2 separate regions of the Homo sapiens genome follow, and region 1 is linked to region 2. Evidence: fine-mapped expression QTL. Tissue or cell type: cerebellar hemisphere. Region 2 holds a variant in brackets; the other region holds the start of a gene. All regions are shown on one strand. Distances are from middle to middle.

The links. PIP is the estimated chance that this variant, and not a neighbour inherited with it, causes the effect.
Region 1: DLEU1 starts here. The variant in region 2 is fine-mapped to the expression of DLEU1 in cerebellar hemisphere (GTEx, PIP 0.99).

Annotation. Positions count from the first base shown.
Region 1 is chr13:50,078,343-50,086,447 of GRCh38, reverse strand. It overlaps DLEU1 (deleted in lymphocytic leukemia 1), which reads right to left and starts at 4,279. Exons shown (of 7, transcript NR_109974.1): 1 at 3,891-4,279; 2 at 3,254-3,306. All of the region lies in intron 1 of DLEU2 (deleted in lymphocytic leukemia 2), which reads left to right. RefSeq lists enhancers at 3,355-4,150, 5,768-5,827 and silencers at 4,308-4,357, 4,758-4,977, 4,841-5,135.
Region 2 is chr13:50,698,744-50,706,848 of GRCh38, reverse strand. No RefSeq gene overlaps it. Among named protein-coding and RNA genes, the nearest start is that of DLEU7-AS1, 110 kb to the left of the region's middle. The variant G/T (reference allele first, on the strand shown) is at 3,360.

The DNA.
Region 1 (8,105 bases), 620 kb after region 2:
TAGAACACCAATGTTCCTTAAAAGAATAGTTTGGCAGTGTCAACACTGCAAAATTTTAGTTTGACTTTTTGATATGTATATTTTTAACTATAATCATAAAACCTTGATATGGGTTGAAAGTTTTTTTCTTGTATTTTTCCTCTGTGTGTTTTTTATAGACTGTGTATATGGAGAGAGAGAGAAAAAGAAAACTCACCCATGTACAAGAGCAAGCAAATGATATAGATGTTCTTTGAACTCTTTTTAATATTGTAACTTTTTGTAAATTTGAAATTATTTCCAAAAAAAGTTGTATTTTTTAAATTAAGTCCCATCTCAGAGAAACAAGACCAACACGAAAATAAAAGGAAGTTGAAAACCCTGCTAAGCAAAGTTTTTAATACATTCAGTAGTATATACTGTTTTCAAGGTACTGTCTGCATTCTTTCTTTCTTTTTTTTTTCTCGAGACAGAGTCTTGCTCAGTGGCCCAGGCTGGAGTGCAGTGGCGCGATCTCGGCTCACTGCAAGCTCCGCCTCCCAGGTTCATGCCATTCTCCTGCCTCAGCCTCCCGAGTAGCTGGGACTACAGGCGCCTGCCACCACGCTCAGCTAATTTTTTTGTATTTTTAGTAGAGACGGGGTTTCACCATGTTAGCCAGGATGGTCTCGATCTCCTGACCTCGTGATCCGCCTGCCTCGGCCTCCCAAAGTGCTGGGATTACAGGCGTGAGCCACCGCGCCCGGCCTGCATTCTTTCTTGAAAGATGAACAGACCTATAGCTTTCACAGTTTTATCTAAATAAGTTAATATGTTGAAGCCAACATTGCATCAGTTGTAGCTTACTCATTATAAACTTCAGCAGGAGGGAAAAAAAGCATAGAAATTACAAGACCTCTGTTCTTCACACTACCCATATTTAGCATCCATTAGCTGGTGATTGCATTTCAGTTTCCAAGAGCAAAACCCCAGATTTTAAATTATGACTTCAGTTCTACTCTTATTGACAAGTAAAGAGGGGTATGCAGAGACACAAACTAACTGTGAGTGGAAAGGGGTGGGGGAGGGATGATTAACTCTTGACTGTATTGAAGAAAGCAAGCTGACACTTCTGCCCTAATTGAGCACCTAAGTAATTGAGTTCTTTCTTCTTATAAAGTACATTACTTTGTAGGGTATTAAAGTTCCAGGCAGGAATTCTTACTAGTTTTAACCCACGAATTTGATGGTCTAAAGTAAAAGCACTTTTCCCGTTTTTCCTTTGAAATTTAACTCAGGAATTTGCACCCCCTTGTGGTCAAATATAAAATTCTTAGTTTTCAAAAGACCGTTTTTTACAATCGGGCTCTCTGTTCAGGCATAGGAACTACTGTATGTTAGTTGATTTTGTTTTCTCCCATTTTAGCAAATCAAGAAGCTTTCATGAAAGATTTTTTCTTAAATAAGACTTTAAACACAATTAGACTTAAATCTTCTAAAAGTGACTTACACATAAACTTTAGTCTCTGCAAAATAGAGATAATTGCACCCACTTAATGAGTTACATGATGATTCGATGGAAAAATGCATGTACATGCTTAGCCCAGTGTCTGACACATATTAGGTCTTCAATAAATGTTATCATTTATCATCATCACTTTAGAATTCTCTTGACATATTATATCTAAAAGGGGACTAAGATAAAAAATTCTACAGTGAGGAAACCAGATTGTGCTACTTACCTATTTGTAAGTTCTAGTACAATTTTACACATGTCTCCCAAATATACCACTTATCCAGACCCCCCCTAGCTGATTGTCCCCACAGGTACATTATATTTTTAAAGTACAAACAATATGTGGTTATCCCTGAATGCTAGAAATTTGGATGATTTTTACTTTATATATATTTTAGATGGGCCTCGGTTTTTTAACCTTAACAATCAGAAAAAGCAATAAATCTATTCCATTTCCAGGTATTATTCTTATGAGATGGTAAAATAAATTAACATCCTTATTTGCCTAACAGGGATCATTATTCATATTTGGGAAAAATCATTTGTCAGTTTGATTTATCATTTTAAGGAGCTCTTGAATAAGAATGCTAACCCCGCCCAGCGCGGTGGCTCACGCCTATAATCCCAGCACTTTGGGAGGCAAAGGCAGACAGATCACGAGGTCAGGAGTTGGAGACCAGCCTGACCAACATGGTGAAACCCCGTCTCTACTAAAAATACAAAAATTAGCCGGGCGTGGTGGCGCGCACCTGTAATCCCAGCTACATGGGAGGCTGAGGCAGGAGAACTGCTTGAACCCGGGAGGCAGAGGTTGCAGTGATCCAACCAGCCTGGGCAACAGAGTGAGGCTCCCTCTCAGAAAAAAAAAGAAAAAAAATGCTGACCCCTAAAGGCACTAACTGTAGTTTGATTTTTGAACAACCATTAAAGAAGCCAGTTTAAAAGATCAATGACTGACTGACAATAACAAACATTTACTAATATGCCAAGCACTGTTGAAATTCCTTTAATATGTTAGCTCATTTACATCCTTACAACAGTCCAATGAGGTATTAATAGTACTTGTTTTACAAAAGGTCCAACAGATAATTTACCCAACAAGGCACAGCTAGTAAGTAGTGGAGCTGGGATTCACCCAGGCAGCTCGGTTCCAGAGTCGACCCACTTAAGTAGTGCAAAAAAGTACCAGAGATTAAGTAGTGTATTTATACTACTCTGCCACGTTACTTCTTGCTGATCTCAAATTGCTAAAATCCATTTCTTTTCCAAGACACTTAAATAATGCAAACCATGCTACCCTTCTCCCACTTCCTTATTAGTACTTCAGGCACTTTCATATCTACTCTCTTATTTAACATTCACAATGAAGGTTTTAAAATATTTACAACTTTATAGGGCTCCACGCGGTGGCTCACGCCTGTAATCCCAACACTTTGGGAGGCCGAGGCGGGCGGATCGCGAGGTCAAGAGATCGAGACCCTTCTGGCCAACATGGTGAAACCCCGTCTCTATTAAAAGTACAAAAATTAGCTGGGCGTGGTGGCACTTGCCTGTAGTCCCAGCTACTCGGGAGGCTGAGGCAGGAGAATTGCTTGAACCCGGGAGGCGGAGGCTGCAGTGAGCCGAGATCGCGCCACTGCACTCCAGCCTGGCGACAGAGCGAGGCTCCGTCTCAAAAAAAAAAAAAAATTACAACTTTATTATCGTTAATTGTCCTATCAGAGTGCCCATTTTTTTTGAAGGTAGACAGGTTTGCCTAGATATGGTGCTTCTACTTACCAGTTCTAAGACTTTGGGGCAGATTTCTTAATCTGAACCTCAGGTGTCCTCATCTGTAAAGTGAAGATAATACCTACTTCATAAGGCTGTTGTGAGCAATAAACACGATTAATTCGTAAATCATTTATTTAGCACAGTGCCCAGCACACAGTACACAGTCAATACGTGGTAGCTGTCAGTATACCAACGTGTTGCACAACAGAAACTCGTCTTTGCTGGATTCAGTTCACTTATCACGCCATTAAAAAAAAAAATCATCCTAAGTGACACAGAAAAACTGCCCATTCCTATCTCAAAAAGTTTATGAACAAGTTAAGACGGTAAGAGAAACTGAATTCAATGAAAGCGCCTTCGCAACAGGCAGCTTAGGACCGGGAAGAAGGGCTTCAGCAAACTTAATCATTAACTCTAGGCAGGCGCGCGCGCACACACACACACACCGTTGAAGAAGGAGACCACGCCTCCTGTGTGGGCTCAGGTTGAATCGTACAGCGTGGTAGAGAACTCCAGGGCTGCTGAATCTGACAGATGTGGATTCATCCACTTCTGTGCCACCTGTGCTGTCTTGGGCAAATTACTTAACGTCTCTGAGCCTAGGTTTCCTGGTCTTCAAAACGAGAACAGTAATAGTTCCTACCTGGTAAAGTTGTTCCGAGGCTTAAGTGCGATAACCCCTGTAAAGCGCTGGAGAACGGCAAAAGCTCTACAAGCCGGCAGGGCGGTTTTAAATGCACGTGTATCCATATACAAGGTCTCATTGATACATTCCGTTGTTTGGAGTTTAGACACTGGCTGTAAGACGTTTTTCTTTTCTCCTAAGCAGGACCCGTATTTGTTTACCTCCAACGTAGACTAAATGCCTGTGGGCTGGTAGCTATAAGACGACCCCTCGGCCCCACAACCTCTAAGTTCACTTCACCTCCGCGGCTTTGCAAAAGCGCTACACGCACGCGCAAGAAGCAAGAGGACTGCAACCGAAGAAGCAAAGGGAGAGCCGTGCACCACGATGATTCTGCGCATGTGCCTGGCGGGAGGAGGGGGGAGGGTTGGAGTTTGCGCATGCGTAAAAATGTCGGGAAAGCAAGAGAAGGGGGGTTAAGAGGCGGTATTGACAGCTGTGGAGGCAGCCCGCGTTCCCGGCATTCCCTGGGGCGGCGGGGTTGGCTCTAACGAATTTGAATGAGGAGCCTCAGCGCTTTCGGCGCCATTTTCGAGTGATGCCTGATCTCATCAATCTAGCGGGAGAGACAGGATAACCTGTCCGAGAGTATAGCGCCACTATGACTCCGCCGGAAAAATTACTTTAAAAATCGCCAAAAATTACTTGGAGCAAAGGGCAGTCGGCGGAGCTTCGCCAAGGCTGGCGCAGTCGGTAAGAGCCTGAAGAAGTAGCAGAGCGGGACTCGGGAGGTGGCAGTGGTGGGACCCGCAGGCAGTGGTGGGTGCAGGGAGTGGGCGCGGGGTCTACTCTCACTTAATCGCGAAAAATCCGAGGAAGTAGGGTTAGGGGCAACTTGGGCGTCTGCGAGTGGGCGGCGGCGGGCGGAATGTGGCGGGAGCGCGGAGAGACGGGGCTGTGGGGGGAGGGGAGCTGCAGTTTGAGCGGGACGCGGACCGGCTGCGGCGGAGCAGCCGCCGCCCAGCGGATCTGTCAGCAAGACCCCCCGCCCGGGACCGGAGCCGGGGACGGCGCACTGCGGGGTCTCTGCAGGCGGCCGCTCCTTGACAGGAGGACTGGACGCGCGCCCCTCCCCCATTTCCGAACCGGGCCGCCTTTTCTCGCCGTTTTCTCGACCCGGTGATGGCCGTCATCTCGTGACAAGAAACTTAAGGTCGACAGAAAATTCAGGACCCGGAGTCATGGGTCCCTCCGGTGGGTCGTGGCAACAGTCCCCCCCGCCACCGCCCGGCACCCATCTATCTATATTGTCTTTTGACGCTGAAGCGTGAGGTGCCCCAGGAAAGAGTTTCCCAAGCCCTGGCTGCCCTCCCCCGGCGCGCTGGGTCCCGGTGAGGTCTCTAGGTAGGTAGGACTGGCCGCGGCTCGCGCTTCCAAGATGGGGCAGGGGCAGGCTTTTGAGGTTGTAGCGGGCTCTTAGGAAAGATGCTGGACTTTAGCTTCTTTCTGGGGATTTTTGTCATTTGCTCTCGCAGCGTTGTCCTTTCTCAAAGGGGAGGAGTGTTCACGGGTGAGATGAAAGATGGGGCTTCGAGCTAACGATTTCCTTCTCGTGGCTATTTCCTCCGAGTCGCACTTTCTTAGAAGACTTTTTTCTTCTCCGGTGTTTGAAACATGTCGCAAGGAAAAAAGCAATCTGTGAAACTATTAATGTTTTCCTCCCCCAAAAGTCTTTACCCGGACAACTTAACGGTAATTTTGCGATCCCCACCTTTTCTTGACGCTGAGGAGGAGGGACGAGAGTTGTTATTTGTCTTTCCCTTCGGTGATTTTTTTTTTCCCCCTTAGCTGGTGGTTTCTATCAATTCTTACTCCACAGCTCTTGAGTGATGTGAGCCAGTGACGGCATTAACTTTAGGTAATACTTCTATGGCCTTTGTAAAAATCCCGCGTTAAGGATGTATTAGATCTTGAGTTCTTTTCCGCGCTGGAGGCACCACTAGATTAACCCTTTGCCGGTGTATTGCGTGTGGGGCGCACGGCTCTGGGTTGCAAATATTCCGGAGATGCTTTCTGCAGCAGCTATTCTGTTCAGTTGTTCGCAAAGAGGAATAACGCTTCCTGGGAACCGCGGTGACACGCTTCTTTAGGACTGCCTGCCTACAGAGTTTTTCCCCGTGGAATTGATGTAACGATTGATTTATTTCTTATATTCTATGAAGACTGGGGGACCCGCCCTCGCTTAGAATGTTTCCCGGAGGAGAATAGAAGAGTGCAATGTGATGTTTTTCAAATTGTGTCTAACGGAGCTCCCTAAACTCTGGACTTGTTACCCCCTGATTGGCTGGAAGGAAGCGGGCCTGGGGGGTTTGAATGTTGAACGCTAAACTATAATTCTCGACTTTACGAAAAAATATACTTTTAGCCAGAGAACCACGGAAATAGCTACGAAACGTTAGGACGAGAGTTTAGAAAAAAAGTTGGTTTTTAATAGTTTTTTTTCCTCTCAGAAAGGATTTTCGTGTGGTTCTCAAATGTATATTAAAAGTAAAACTGAAGAGGCTGTTTTCGCAAAATTATGTTTCTGCTGGTTGAAATTAACAAGACTTTTATATATTTGTCACTGTTCTTTATTGGTTAAAAACTGAGTGAAAAATTTAGTTTTTTTCCTTTGATAGGAATTTTTCACCTTAAACTACATATATTTGTTGGATGCAGATTACCGGACAGTTGTTTCTTTTATTTTGATGCAAAGAAACTAATTTTCTTAAGGTTCACGAATGATCTTTTTAACATTTTCCATAAAAATTGAACATCTTATTTAAAAAACTTTTCGCATCTAGTGAAAATATACATTTTGCTAATTCAGTAACTGCAGTGAACTAAAACTTTAATTTACAAAACATTTATGTTTCTTAATTTAGACAACAGGTAAGCACAGGTGCGTATCTATTATTTAGTTCCTTTGATAAATTCATTATGAAGAAATATATTGTATACAACAGTGTGGGTGTGCTGTTTTTTATCTGGTTGATTTTCAGTTGATTTTTGTTCGATGTTGCCTGAGACAGCCTCAGTATATTTCCATTTATTACCGAGCTTGTCATTCCATTTAATTGCATCTTGATAAAAGGCAGGTGTCGTTTTCAAAGAACAGCGGCAAACTAACTGATAAACAGCTGTAGATGCTTTGAGAAACAATTGTTTTAATTTAATAGACGTTTATATTCTTTTATGAATAGTAGTTAAATTTTGAAGCTTATAGTGTGTATGTTCGCATTAAGTCAAATACGCATTGTTAAAAAATATTCAAATAAAAAATCTTATGGCTTTTATAAATCTCTGTAGGGCTGTAAATATAATTTACATTAGTAAGTGGAATAGCTGAGTTTATAATTCATACTATTTTGTACTGCCCTCATAACAAGAATTGTGATAACAGATCCCTTTTCATTACCTTTGTTCAAAGCTATTTATTTTGGGTCATCTTATGAAAATTTCATAGAAGGTGCTAATTATCTTCTCTATAAAATTTGATTTAATGAAATTTTAGGAGATCTCATTTCTATTTTAAACGTAATTATACCTAAAGTACCAGAACTCCTGGGTTTTGCTTTTTACTGATGGTTTTTGTTTTGAGTTTTGTATTCTCATTCAAATTACGTGAGTTTTGGGAAGAGTTGGGGGCAAGCTTTAAATTCCACCAGGCTGGTTAAGTATAACCATACATTTTTAGCACTTTGGTTTATGGGATTTTTTGTTTGTTTAGGGGGTAATGGGTAAAGGATTGTTTGTTTAATAAGCCATTTTTAAAAGAAGTGATTCCTTTATTTAAAATACATCACTTCAAATTTGAGAATACACTAGCGCCTAAATAAAATCCACAGCATTCAAAATATTTTCACTTTTATGTGATGCTATATAAGAGGAAGATTTTGGTTTTAGACTTGTGGGCATATAGGTATAAGTTACAACATATGTGTATTTTTTAATGTTTATGTGCACTTATCCATATTTCTCTGTAGAAATTGACAGTTGTAATTTATTTTGTATTACAAAGTCATTTATTACCATAGGAAAGCAACTGCGGGGTGTGGTGTTGCTATAATAGGTCACCCCTTTTTAAAGTTATGTTTACCTATTGTGGGGGAAAGGGGACTGGTAAGGTATCAGTCTTCCTGGTAGCATTGATTTTCATTTGTTTGCCCCCACACTATTTTTAAAAATTCAAAT
Region 2 (8,105 bases):
AGCTCTGGCTGCTATAGTGAAAAATTATCTAGAAGTCATAAACTCAAGTGCTTACTATCCAAACCAGGCCAACAACTTTAGTGAAGCCCATGGAGTCAGATGTAAACCCTGGGTAATGGTCAGAACTGGCTTCTCCAATGGCTCCAGCCCATTGGACACTCAGCCAATACTGCTACAGGAATGATCCAGCCTTCTGATTGCCTTGATATTTCCAGCAACAACCTGATGCCAGCCCTTCACACTCTTGGAGGGGACAGCAGGAAGCTGAATGTCATTGATTGAAGGAAAATACAACCGGGTGAGGTGGCTCAGGCCTGTAATCCCAGCACTTTGGGAAGCCGAGGTGGGAGGATCGCTTAAGCCTAGGAGTTTGAGACCAGCCTAGGCAACACAGCGAGACCTTATCTCTGCAAAAATTAAAAAAAAAAAAAAATTAACCGGGCATGGTGATGCATGTCTGTAGTCTCAGCTACTCAGGACGCTCAGGTGGGAGGATTGCTTGAGCCCAGGACATCGAAGCTGCAGTGAGCCATGATCATGCCATTGCACCCCAGCGTGGATAACAGAGTGAGACCCTATGTCAAAAAAAAAAAAAGGAAGGAAGGAAGAAAGGAAGGAAGAAAGAAAGAGAAAGAAAGAAAGAGAGAAAGAAAGAAAGAAAAGAAAGAAAGAAAGAAAGAAAGAAAAAGAAAATACCCTGAGGTAGCATGGCTCCAAACACCCTAGGGCCACGTCTGGGAGAGTCGGCCTAGGCAGGGTAGATTCTTGCGTGTTTGAAGACAGCTGTTGAGAAGCTGTGAACCAAGCCCAAGGACCCAAACAGACAGGGAGCTGAATCTCATACCAGAACAACCACCACATTTATATGAGAAAAGTTAAATATGGTTATTCTGAATGAAATTTGCAGGTACTTAAAAAAATTATAGCACCAACCTTGCACAGAACATATGGGAAGCTATTCGAGGTAAAGAACCAGTTTTCTCTAACATGAACATGATCTTTTGCTGCACTATCTGGTGCTACTTTGATCTAAAGAGAAGAGCCACAAAGAAGGTAGCTGTACCAGGAATGGGGACTATGGTATGTGAACAGCTGTAATTGTAAAGCTGCCAGCTTCAGTCCAATGGAGAGAGTAATAGTGAATTTCCACTGATGTGTCAGGCTTTATTCTAAGCATTTTACATATAGCAACCAGTTAAATATTTATAACAACCTTATGGTAGAGGTATTATCATCATCCATTTTGTACAAATAAGGAAACTGAGGCACAGAATACTTTAGATTATTTTGCATCCCAATAGCCCACTCCAGAGCCTGGACTCTTAAGACTTCTTTCTGTTCTGCTATTCTCTTTTAATAACAACCCCAATAGAAGAAGGATTGGGCCGGGCATGGTGGCTCATGCCTGTAATCCCAGCACTTTGGGAGGCCAAGGCGGGCGGATTACCTGAAGTCAGGAGTTCAAGACCAGCCTGGCCAACATGGTGAAGCCCCATCTCTACTAAAAATACCAAAAATTAGCCAGGCGTAGTGGCGGGCACCTATAATCCCAGATACTCGGGAGGCTGAGACAGGAGAATCGCTGAGCCCGGGAGGCTGTGATTGCAGTGAGCCGAGATTGTGCCATTGCACTCCAGCCTGGGCAACAAGAGTGAAACTCCGTCTCAAAAAATAATAACAATAAAATAAATAAATAAATAATAAAAAAAGAAGAAGAATTGATTTGGATTCCTTAGTATTGGATGTGTACATGATGCATGGTAGTTGTATTTTTCTCTGTCGTGTGTGTGTGTTTGTGTGTGTGTGTGTGTTGTATCTGCGTTTCTTAGGCAAATTATTAAGCAAAAGACTCAGTTTAGTCTGAAGCTAGCTGATCAGACACATAACCGAATATCAGGAGGCTTAATCAGTGGCACCACTTGCTACTAACTGGCTTTATAGTTAGATCTCAAGTGCTCATTTCCTCATCTATGTAAGAGGGGGTTGGACCAATCACCTTCTCATTTTCAAGATGGGTAAAACTACAGCTGTGTCACCTTCCAATAGGACTGAAAGTTTGGGAAGTGAGGCAATTACCTCCCCTGCCCCTAGTACTATCACCAATCAGCTGCCATAAAGCCAAATCTTAACTGAGGGTGAATTCTTTGGTGGTTTAAGTGAGTTTGAGAGTTAGACTAGACACTCTGACCTCTCTCCATAGGAACCTAGGAGAGACCCTGGTTTCTTCCAGGCTGTATGGTGAGTGAGCAACCATTCAGGGTGGCTTCTATTCAATAGAAGGATCTGTTTCAGCAATTTCTAAAAGTTAGCCACTTTCTTCTCTTTAGGATGTGACTTGATTTGACCAAAGTTTCTACAAGGCAGCCCTCTAAGCTGCCATGGGCCTCCTGCAGGTATGGCCTGAGATATAGTCTATGATATAGACCAAGGCAGTCTGTAGAATCTGGAGTTAAGCATCTTATTATCATCTCCTCAGTAATCAATTTTATCAACCCAGAGATTTGACTAAAGAGAGTATGGAATGCTCAGGTGTGGCAGACCAACCTGACTCAAGCACACATTCTTTCTAAAGGGAAACAGAAGAAGTTAGACACATGACCTCAAAGCTCAGAAAGTGAGCACTTCTTACATCTATTGCTGTAGAGAGCTGCACAAGAGGCATCATCAGCGCTTAAGTAATTTAAGGTTCATTCTGTAGGACACATTTCTAGAAAAGGAATCTGGGTAAAAGAGTACTAAAATGTCTAAGCTTTTGGTTCAAGATGTCTTTTCTAACAATAGCTGTTGACTGAAAAGACTAAGAAAAGGTGGCACGTGGCTCAGCACATGCTTAGCGGCTGGAACAGAAGCTTCAGCTACACACCTAGTTAGTGATGTATGATGTATCTGGCTCTGTCTTTTGCTTCCCTGGCTTCCCTTTTTTTAAAGTCAGGTTTTTCAAGGTATAATTTATATACAGTAAAATTTACCCTTTTTAAGTGTGCAGTTTGATGGATCTTGAAAAACACATACAGTTGTGTAAGCACCACCACAATCAAGACCTAGAGCATTCTCTCTGCACCTTTGTGATCAGTCCTCTCTCTCCATTCTCAGCCCCTGGCAATTACTGTCCCTATAGTTTGCCTTTTGTGGCATGTGATTCATATGAAAGGACAGAGCAGGTGGTCTTTTAAGTCTGGCTTTTTTTCACTTAGCATTATGCATTTGAGTTCATCCGTGTTGTTACATATAGCACAAGTTATTCTCTTTAATTGCTGTCATATTCCATTGTATCAATGTAACAGAGTCTGTTCATTTATTTACTGGGCGGTGGTTATTTGGGTTGTTCGTAATTTTTTGGAGGTTGTGAATAATGCCTC[G/T]CAACATGAAGATGTTTTATATCTCTCGGGTAGATACTCCAATGCTTTATGTTTTCATTTCTCTTGGGTAAATATCCAAATGCTCAGTTGTATAAGTGACATTCAACTTTATAAGAAATTGTCAGACTGACTTCTTAAGTGGCACTTAGCATTACCACCAGCAATACCTGAGAGTTCCAATTACTCTGCATCCTTATCAGCTCTTGACCTTGCCGTTTTAAAGTTTCTATTGTTAAAAAGAGGTATGGCAGTATTTCACTGTTTTTAATTTGCATATCCTTAATGACGAATACTGTTGAGTGTCTTTTCATTTGTTCATTTGCCTTCCACATACCTTCTTTGCTGAAATGTCCAAGTCTTTTGGCCATTTTTTATTAGGTTGTTAGTTTACTTTTATTATTATTTGTCAGAGTTCTTTATATATTCTGAAAACAAGTCTTTCATAACATACGTATTTTGTAAATATTTTGTCCCAGTCTGTGGCTTGTCTATTTATTTTTTTTCTTAACAGTATATTTCAAAGAACAGCACTTTTTATTTCAATGAAGTCCTACTTAATTTTTGTGTGTGGCCTAGCTAAGAAAGCAGCACTTATCGATGGTTGCAAAAATCTCTTCCCTATCTTTTCCTCTAGAAATTTCTTATTGTTAGGTTTTACATGTAGGCCTATGTTCCAATTTGAGTTGATTTTGTATTTGAGGCAAGGGATGGGTTGAGAATCATGTTTTTGCATATAGGTATCTGTTTCGCTGACATCTGTTGAAAAAAACTATCCTCCATTGAATTTCCTTTGTTCCTTAGTTGAAAATCAATTATCCTTATATTTGTGGATTTATTTTGGATTCAGTTTAATTTCATTGACTTGTGGTGACTCTTTCACCAACATGCATACTTTTGACACTGTAGCTTTAGAGTTAATTCTTTAGATTAACTTTGTTTTTTCTCCAAATTCTTTTCACTAATCTGTTTACTTTGCTTTTCCATAAAAATTTTAGAATCTGCTTGTTGATTTCTACAACAGATCTTGCTAGGATTTGTATTGAGGCTGCATTGAATCTACAGATCACTTTAGGAAGGATTTACATTTCTGGCCACCTTTTTTTTTTTTTTTTTTTTTTTTCTGACAGGGTCTTGGTCTTGCTCTGTTGCCCAGGCTGGAGTGCAGCAGCACAACTACTGCTCACTGCAGCCTTGATCTCCTGGGTTCAAGCACACCACCCACCTCAGCTTCCCAAGCTGCTGGGACTACAGGCACATGCCATCATGCCTAATTTTTTTTTTGGTAGTGACAGAGTTTCTCCATGTTGCCCAGGCTGGTCTTGAACTCCTGGGCTCAAGCAACCCACCTGCCTTGGCCTCCCAAAGTGCTGGGATTACAGGAGTAAGCCACCACCCAGCCCTGGTCACTTTTTGATCCTAACTTATTTCTTCTACCTTGGCTTATGAAACCAGCCACCAACGTGCCTGTTGTTATTGCACAGCTTGTCCTCATGATTGGATCTGCACTGGATGTTAGCTGTTGGTAAACAATTCATACTGACTTTAACCCTACACGACATAGTATCACCTGGTATACGGACCCAGGTTTTTACCATCCCTTTAACGAGGTCTTTGCAGGTAACTTTGTAATGTCCTCCTACTGTGGATAAGGTAACCTGCTCCACCACTTGAAATTGGGCTCAAAATTAGCTTTGTCCCATGGAATTTAGGAGATATGACACAACAAAAGACTTGAAATGGTCTTGTGCATTGAGGCTTGCTTTCTTGTGCCTCTGTCATTGCCTCAAGAATATGTCTGCTGGAGAATGAAAGATAATTGGAACTGAGCCAAATTGCCCCAATCATCCCAGTCAAGGGAAGCCTTGATCAGCTGACAGCCAATTTACCCCCAGATATGTGAACGTGCACAGCCAAGATCAGCATACTGCCTAGCTAAGCACTCCAAATGCAGGAGTTATAAATATCTATTATCATATGCTACTGAACGTTTGTGTTTATTTTTTATGAAGCATCATGATAGCAATAGATAACTGACACATGTCGGTAACAACAGGCTCTTTAAATGCATTACAGATAGCATCGCAAAATAACTTATAGGGCTAGGGCAGTCTGTAACCAAATATAGCTAGTTTCATGGGTTAATCACATCTCTTGATTTTTTCCCATCATTCTCAATACCAAATACTAAAGAAAATTATTATAATAGAAACTTTTCTAGGTCCTCATCACCACCTCCAACCCCTGAGTCAAGTAAAACTGTAAAACTGTGAAGGACTCCATTCCACTTCATTTTTATTCTTAATCACAAGGAGGTTATATTGCCTTAACCCTTTTAGTAAATGATTGAGCATCCCAGATGTGTAATGGTTTTGGAAAAGGTCAGAAAAATGTCAAAAGAAAGGCAAGCAACAAGAAAATGATTAATCAGCTTTTCTTCTCATCAAAGTCTTGAACTATTTGCTGAATTGGGGTTTTTAATTTTTTATATATTTAAATTTTTAGGTAGCTATCCTTTGGAGTAGGAATGCCATGGCATAAAGAGTCATAACATTTAAAACATGTTTATGAAGTCTAAACCACTAACTTGGCTGCGGTTGAAATGCATTAGGCTCCTTTGTGCTGTGCTCACACCCCTCCCAAAGGTTGTGCTGGCAAAGCTTTCTCCTACTGCTGCTGCCTCCTCCCTGGATGGCACCATGAGCTGTAAGACAAATGTAGGCATATAACCCACATTAAAGGGCATTGAGAAGTATTAGAAGTTGTGCTTCTTCAGGCTTTGACATCTGACACATTTCTAATCACTGGGGTGTGCTTGGGTCAGAGGCCCTTTACATCAGGATCATTTTGCACAGCTTAAATTTCAGGGTCTCCTATTAGAGCCGAAGAGAAGAGAGATCCCCAATCCACAGCCATGCCGCTGTCAGGGGCAATACCTCCTCGAAGAGGGGCCTCTGGGGCCCAGGGACAGAAACCTGCCACCACCACCCATGGTGGTGGAATTTAAGCCTGGAATGCTTAAGACTTTGGCCCTGGCAGTAGTCTCACTTGATTGATTTTATTCACCCACCCCTGACCCAGTCTTTTTGATGACTTTGTTGCATTGCCTCCTTGAGAAATAAAAATAGACTGGGTAAACCAAATTTGGTTAAGATTTAAGTTCTTAGGCAAAAAATAGCACTAGTCTCTGAAGCCAGTGCAGGGCTTTGCTCATAAGCTGAAGGGGCAGTCCAAAGAAAAAGTTAGGGTTTGTCAAATATGCTAAAGCAGCAGGGCAGGCCTAAGCTGATAAGAGCTACTAGTGTGTTTACATGAAATGAACAGGTCAAAGCACATTCAATAGAAATTATAGGAGACAGATAGTGGGATAGAATCACATTCATCTGGTTTCAAATTTCTTCCTTACCCATTACCAGCTGTGGTATCAGAGTCTCAGTTTTCTCAATTCTAAAACAGGGATATTAATAGAACTTATTTCATACGGCTGTAATGAACTTTAAAATAAATAAATAAATATAGTTTGCCTGATACTGCTTCTGACTCATTAAGTACTCAATAAATGGCAGTTAATATTGTTAGTATTGATGCCATTACTTACAGTGAAACTGCTTAGGATGTGATATTACATAAAAATCCACCAGAATACAAAGTTGGATTGGCAATATAATTAAAACTATGCTAAAAAGAATAATAAGGAAAAGGCTGGAAATGCATTGGAATGCTATCGTGTGAGTCAGGTCAGTGGGATTATTGGTGGCTTCTCTTTCTTTTCTACTTTCCAAGTTTTCTGCTACAGTACTATACTATATTTATGATTAAAATAATGTTTTAAAAATGTAAATTATGTGCAATATCTTACCAAATAGGCTAACCTGAATCTAATCATGAGAAAACTATCATATAAAACCAGACAATGGGACATTCAGGAAGACAATTCCCTTGAATTCATAAAAATGTCATTAAAAAAAAAAAGTACAAAGGATCCCAACTTTGGGAGGACAAGGCGGGAGGATTACTTGAAGCCAAGAGTTTGAGACCAGCCTGGGTAGCAAAGTGAGACCCTTGTCTCTACAAAAAACTTTTAAAAAGTGCAAAGACAGGAGAACTGAGAACTATACTATAGTTAAAGAGATCAAAGAGATAATAGCAACCAAATATAATGTGTGAATCTTGACGGGATCCTGGATCAGAGAAAAAAATATATGAAAGTCAATTTTGGGAAAATTGGGGAATTCAAATCTGGCCTGTATATTAGATATGTTATATGTTATTTTTTCTTGGCTATAATAATGAAAATGTTATGTAGTAGAATGTCCTTATTCTTAGAAAATGCAAGCTGAAGTACTTATGAGTGACATGTCACAATATTGATTATATAGATACAGCTGTATCTGTCTATTAATTATCAGTAACGTATTATCTATCGCTAAAAAGCATTATGTTTTCAAAGTGATTTTTATGTCTGTGAAGTTTTTTGAGTCTCATAAGAAGCCAGTTGGAAAATGATCATTAGTTTTATGGTAAATTTTGACTTTGATTTATCTTACACGGATATATGTCTTCTACAAATAATTCCCAGAGGACTAAAACTATGCCATTCCAACACATCCAATGTATGTATGTACATGTGTATACATACACACATATATGTATATACATGATAGATGTACATATATATGATAGATACACACACACATATTTTTATATATATATATATATATATTTTTTTTTTTTTTACATATTTTATTT